Linked DNA regions of Homo sapiens: region 2 is linked to region 1. Evidence: fine-mapped expression QTL. A gene starts in region 1. The other region holds a variant in brackets. All regions are shown on one strand. Distances are between the middles of the regions.

What was found. PIP is the estimated chance that this variant, and not a neighbour inherited with it, causes the effect. A credible set is the group of variants that fine-mapping cannot tell apart.
Region 2: its variant is the best candidate, but not a certain one, in a credible set for the expression of NUB1 in skeletal muscle (GTEx, PIP 0.56).

The regions. Positions count from the first base shown.
Region 1 is chr7:151,340,134-151,343,045 of GRCh38, forward strand. It overlaps NUB1 (negative regulator of ubiquitin like proteins 1), which reads left to right and starts at 1,679. Exons shown (of 15, transcript NM_001243351.2): 1 at 1,679-1,713. RefSeq lists enhancers at 1-10, 141-230, 1,300-1,801 and silencers at 1,399-1,598, 1,769-1,948.
Region 2 is chr7:151,375,820-151,378,731 of GRCh38, forward strand. NUB1 (negative regulator of ubiquitin like proteins 1) reads left to right here. Exons shown (of 15, transcript NM_001243351.2): 13 at 29-124; 14 at 815-992; 15 at 1,228-2,630. The coding sequence ends at 1,406. It also overlaps a transcript of WDR86 not described here. Among named protein-coding and RNA genes, the nearest start is that of WDR86-AS1, 32 kb to the right of the region's middle. The variant G/A (reference allele first, on the strand shown) is at 1,574.

The sequences.
Region 1 (2,912 bases):
GGACATTCAATTTCCTGATGGTCTACTACGTAAATGTAAAAGTGAAACTATCTTTGTTACTCATCTCAGAGAAAGCCCTCAGAAAAAAATGTCAGAACAGTTTCTGTTGTCCTTCTACCTTGCTGCAATTGCTACTGAGCAATCAACGGGCTTTTTCCTGATGTGCTAGAAGCCAACACCATGGCACGGGCTTTTGAGAAAAGAAAGGCTTTATTGTGAGTTGACTGTCAAGGAGACATGAGGAAACCCTCAGCTCTGTCTCCTTGAGCTTGGGGCTGGGTTGGGTTTTATAAGCATAGGGTAATGACGCATGATCGGATTAGATTTTGCGATGAGGTGATGCTGGGATGCTCATCTGACTGGACCCTGCCATGGGGTGACACCAGGGCTTGATCTGATTGCATTCTGGATCTCACCATGCAGTGCCCATTTCTTAATTCAGTCCCTGCTTTGATCTGAGCACTCAGGTTCCGCCCCTGGTTGCATGCTTGGTTCACCTGGGCATCCTCAGGTTACGTGCGAAACCTTCCATCTGGGAGTCCATGCAACTGAAAAACAACTCACAACTTGGGTATATAAAAGGCGAATCAGATTGGTCTGGTGCGGTTATACAGTTATTAATATCCCTTTGTCAGAAGTCAAAATTACCACAAATTTAGATTAAAGATCTATTGGTTTTTATTGATTCATGAATCAGGATGGCATCTTCTCTGAAAATTTAGAAACGGTGCTCCAACGAGCTGGGCAGAGGAGGTGGGCTTTATAGGTAGAAAAGGGCTAAAGAAAGCAGCAACAGGGAACGAAAAACGGATTGGTCACTGCAAGGTTACAGGAGTCCCCTCTCGTCCACACACAGGTGGTGTGTCCCAAGACCCACAGTGGATGCCTGAAACCTCGGATAGTACTGCACCCCATTTTACATACACACACATATATATATACTATATATATACACACACTTCATTTTTCCTATACATACGTACATACCTACGATAAAGTTTAATTTATTAGGCACAGTAAGAGATTAACAGCAATAACTGATAATAAAATAGAAGCGTCACTGTTGAGCACAGCCTTGGGAATAGGACCTTGGAAGTAGGCAGAGCTCCCTAGGCCTTGTGGTCCCTAGTGGCCGTGGACAGCATGGGGGAGGAAATTCCCGGGAAGCAGCCTAATTTCACCCCAGGGAAGCCCCTGGTGGGCTTGTGGAGGGCGGGGTGAAAAGCCGCTGGTTTAGGGAAGGGGTCCAGCCTAGGCTGAGGAATGAGATGCGGGTTGGGACGGTCCCGACCCTTCCCCCAGCCTCTTTCAAGGATTCTGGAGAAACAAAGCCAGGATCCATTTCCTCTTGATGGCTGGCAAACTGAGCCCGGGCGGGAAGTCCTGGAAGACTGAGCCTGGGGTGGCGTTGGACACCAACTCCCAGGTCCTCGCCCCACACGGCCACATCCTCGCCCAGCCCCGCCTCCGCTTAGCTCCGCCCCGTCGCGGCTCCGCCCCGCGGTAACCACGCCCACACAACCGTATCCCCGCCCACAGCTGGCTTCGCCTTGGCCCCGCCCACAACCCTCTTTCCAAGCGGCGGCGGCGGCGGCGGCGCGAAGGCGACAGCGGCGGCGGGGGCGGGGCTGGCCTCACCCGGAATGAAAACAAACGGCGGCCGCTGCCGCATCCGGGCACTCTGCTGGTCGCGGCGGGAGTGGCGTGGCGCAGGTGAGGACACGGCGGCCGAGTGTCCTCGACCCCAGCCTCAGCAGCACTGCTTGGCGCCCCGGTTCCCGGTCCGACTGGGCACCTCTCCTGGCCAGGGGTGGAGCGGCCGCGGGGCGGGGGTGAGCAGCCATGCGTGGAGCTGGGCCGGGGCCGGGGCCGGGGCCGGGAGCGGTGGGCCGGGCTTCGGGACGCGCTGGCCGTTCGGGGCCCTTTGGTTTGCCCTGAGTTAGGCAGAGGTGTGGGGTATTTAAAAGAAAATATTGAGTGTATCGGTTTGGGGAGAGAAAGGAATAAATATGTCTATAAAAAATTAGCCAAATGCTATACTTGAATCGTAACACTCCGAGTATACCATTTGGGATTTATTTGCAATCAAAGCCAGATTTTCTTTGCTATTTAATGACAAGACACTTGATTTTCTCGAACCTTGACGACCTGATTCTATCATTCTCACCTCCTTCCCTTTTATTTTTAATCAAGAATCTTTCATTTTCCTAAGAAAAAATGAATGTGTCTTGACTAGATATAGTTGTGTTTCAACTATATATAATGTATACTTGAAAAGGTGTGGCTAAATGTAGCAATGATCGATTCATTACAAAAGTGAAAGTGAAATTTTTAAAGGATCGTTATAACGTTTCACTTTCTGCTTGGACCACGGAGTGATATTAATGAGTTTCGTCTTTTCTTAGTTACAATGTGAAACATTGTATGGCATGCATGAAACTTTTTCAGTTCTCATTTCAGTTAAAATTAAAAACTGACTTATTAAACTTGACTTAAAATATGTCGCCACTTACTCTGTTGTCTATAACTGAAGTTCCTTAAGTTTCAAGACAGTGGTTTAATTTTTTTTTAACATTAAATCTTATTCGGTGTAACCCTGGAGCTCTTGTTTGCTCCCTGGAGTGTCTGACACGCACTGGGTTTGTAACACTCCTTCGTCCTTCTGTCAAGTGGTGGCTTGGATGGCATCTTTTTAAAAATTTTTTATTTGTTTATTTTTTTAGTAGAGACGGGGTTTCACCATGTTGACCAGGCTGGTCTTGAACTCCTGACCTCAGGTGATCCACTGGCCTCGGCCTCCCAAGTGCTGGGATTACAGGTGTGAGCCACCGCGCCCGGCCTTGGATGGCATCTCTGAGTACCGCATCAGCCTTTCAAATTGCTTGGCTCCAGTAACCAGCCTGTGAAATTAC
Region 2 (2,912 bases), 36 kb after region 1:
GGGTAAAGGGTGTTCCTGTGTGTTTTAGATTCTGCTCAGCAATCCTCAGATGTGGTGGTTAAATGATTCCAATCCTGAAACCGACAACCGTCAAGAAAGTCCTTCCCAGGAAAACATTGACCGAGTGAGTGACAGGCCTTTGTGCCCTCAGCTTGGACAGCCTCGGGTGGGGTTGCTTGGGGTAACCCGGGTGAATCAGGCAGCAGGACTGGGGGAGTCCGTGCTGAAACCTTGGCTCCCAGGCTCCAGGTGTAACCTGCCCACCTCAGAGGCCACCCACGCAGTAACAGAGGGCAGGGGAGGCCTCCTTGGAAAGCAGGAAAACTGGGGAAGTGTCAGGAAGTTCTCTTTAGGTTTGCTGCCTTTGTCTATGCACCACTGTTTGCATCAGCCTCATTTCTCTGCCTGTGACCTAAAAGGATGGCACTGTGACCTGGGAAACCCATCCAGCTTTGTATCCCAAGTGACGGCTCTGTCCACATTTGTGCCCCTACACGCGTTAGCACGCCTGTATGCTGTGGCCACTGACCTCGCGGTGCTCGTGGTGAGGCTGGTGTGGCGCCCTGCTCTCAGCCCGAGGTCACTGCCTGTCCTGAGATGGCTGCTCCCTGACGCACCCGACTTGAGTCTTCCAAGCCCCCTTCCAGGTTGCTCTACGCTCACATTGCACAGAAGCATGACTTGTGCACAAAGGGCCATGGTGCACACGCCGGGAGCTCTTAAACATGAGAGTCGGCTGTCCACTCGTATGGCTGACGGGGGTGGCAGAAGAGGCGCCAGGGGCTGATGCTGTGACCCCTGCGCTCTCCCCTAGTTGGTGTACATGGGTTTTGATGCACTCGTGGCCGAAGCTGCGCTGAGAGTGTTCAGAGGCAACGTCCAGCTGGCCGCCCAGACCCTTGCTCACAACGGAGGAAGCCTGCCTCCCGAGCTGCCGCTGTCGCCAGAAGACTCTTTGTCCCCGCCAGCCACGTCCCCTTCTGACTCCGCAGGTAGGTCTGAGGTCTTTGAGGGCCGCATTGAGAGCAAAGTGTCTTCAGAAGCCAACAGATGTGGCCCTAAGCCACGGCAGATGTGGAGACTGAGGGGGCGTCCCCTGACGTCACCGGGCCGGCCACCTGGACAGTGTGGCCAGCAAGAGGCACAGTCTGAGGTTGACTGTGGTCGTGCAGTGTCCCCAGGACAATCCTCACATAATTCACTTACTCCTGCGGTATTTTATTGTAGGAACCTCTAGTGCCTCAACAGACGAAGACATGGAGACAGAGGCCGTCAATGAGATACTGGAAGACATTCCAGAGCATGAGGAAGACTATCTTGACTCAACTCTGGAAGATGAAGAAATTATTATTGCAGAGTACCTATCCTATGTAGAAAATAGGAAGTCAGCAACAAAGAAAAACTAAATAATGAACAGAAATAGCGCTAATTTTCTGCTTATAAATGCTATCATTATGAAAAGGCTAATGCAGCTCTTTCTGTTCTTACTTTTTATCTGAATTACAAGTCCTCTTTGGGTGTAGGAGGGGGTGGGCAGGGGACAAGTCCAGGAGGGGTCCCAGGGCCTTCATGC[G/A]TGGTCTCGGGGAAGAAGCTTCCTCTGGCCTGGCGCAGGCCGTTCCATCTGCCTCCCAGGTCTGCGTCCCTAACCCCTTCCCCAGCTTGGTGTTTTACCCCGAAACAGGAAGGAACAGGGGTCCTGTAGAACAGGGGTCCTGGGGAAGGTGTCCAGGGCAGGGTCCTGGGAAGGGTGTCCCGACCGCTTCCTCTCCAGCTGTGGCTCCATCTGCCCAGCTTGCCTGCCTCCTGCACCCACTGCCCTGACCTTCCTGCTTCCCACGCTGCCATCTCTGCCAGGGTGCCACATGGGTTCCTGTGCCACCCTTTCCCCGCCCCTCAAATCGTCCTTTAAGTCTTCCTTCCAAGTGCTGTGGGGCATAACGATGAGGCGCTGGCCTTGGGGGCCACACCAGGTCGCAGCAAATGGCTTCAGCCTGGGACGCCAGTGTTTTATGCTCTTAGTTCAGTAAAATACGCCCCCGAAATTCAAGATTGAGTGTCAGGCTTTATATATATTCAGCATTCCTCATTACAGAAATCTTCTATTGAATGGGAAAGGTTTAAATGCTAACCAAAGCAATTTATTTTTAATTAATATTTTTAGACTCTGTGCTGTCATACTGAACTCACTGCTAGCTAAGAGACCTATCAGAGATTTAGATATATTTTCTCCAGGTTTTTTGTGGGTTTTCTTTGTTGTTGTTGTTGTTCTAGCCATGTGACAGAGGCTCTTTCTAAAAGTATGTAGTTCGCTGTGTGTCGGCTCCAGCAGTAACCGTCCTCACTGCGCCACGCACTCCTCTGTAGATGTGTGCCCAGTGGGAGTTCCTTCCAGCCCCAGGACCACAGCAGCAGCCAGGTGCCGAGTGGATTGAGTGCCAGGTGCATCCAAGACTTTCCCTCCCTTCCAGAAGGCACTGACTGAAGACAGGATGGATCATGCGGAGCCGGCTGAAATGCTCCAACTTTTTCAAAGTGTGGGTGGTCCAGTTTGGACTGATGGGAATCTTCTTGTCATTCTTTTTAAACGGATGATACCGATGGAAATAAAAGGTGGGAAATATATTCAAAAATTGTCACCCTAATTTTGCATTAATTTACTCAGCCTCCCCAGCTGTAGGTGTTGAAAGTGTCTGGGTGACTAGCTCTTCATTTTGATTGCAGGATGTCTGTTTCCACTGAGTTTTGTGAGGAGATGATGGAAGGATGATCTCAGAAGCAGAGGGCATCTGCTGTGAAAGATGCCGCACGCCAAGCGGGGCTGGGGTGCATCCTGGGCAGGGGACTGAAATGTACCTGTCAGGGTTTGCCTCAGAAGTGCCTGGTGAGCTGAGGTGACGCGGAGTCTCAGCCTC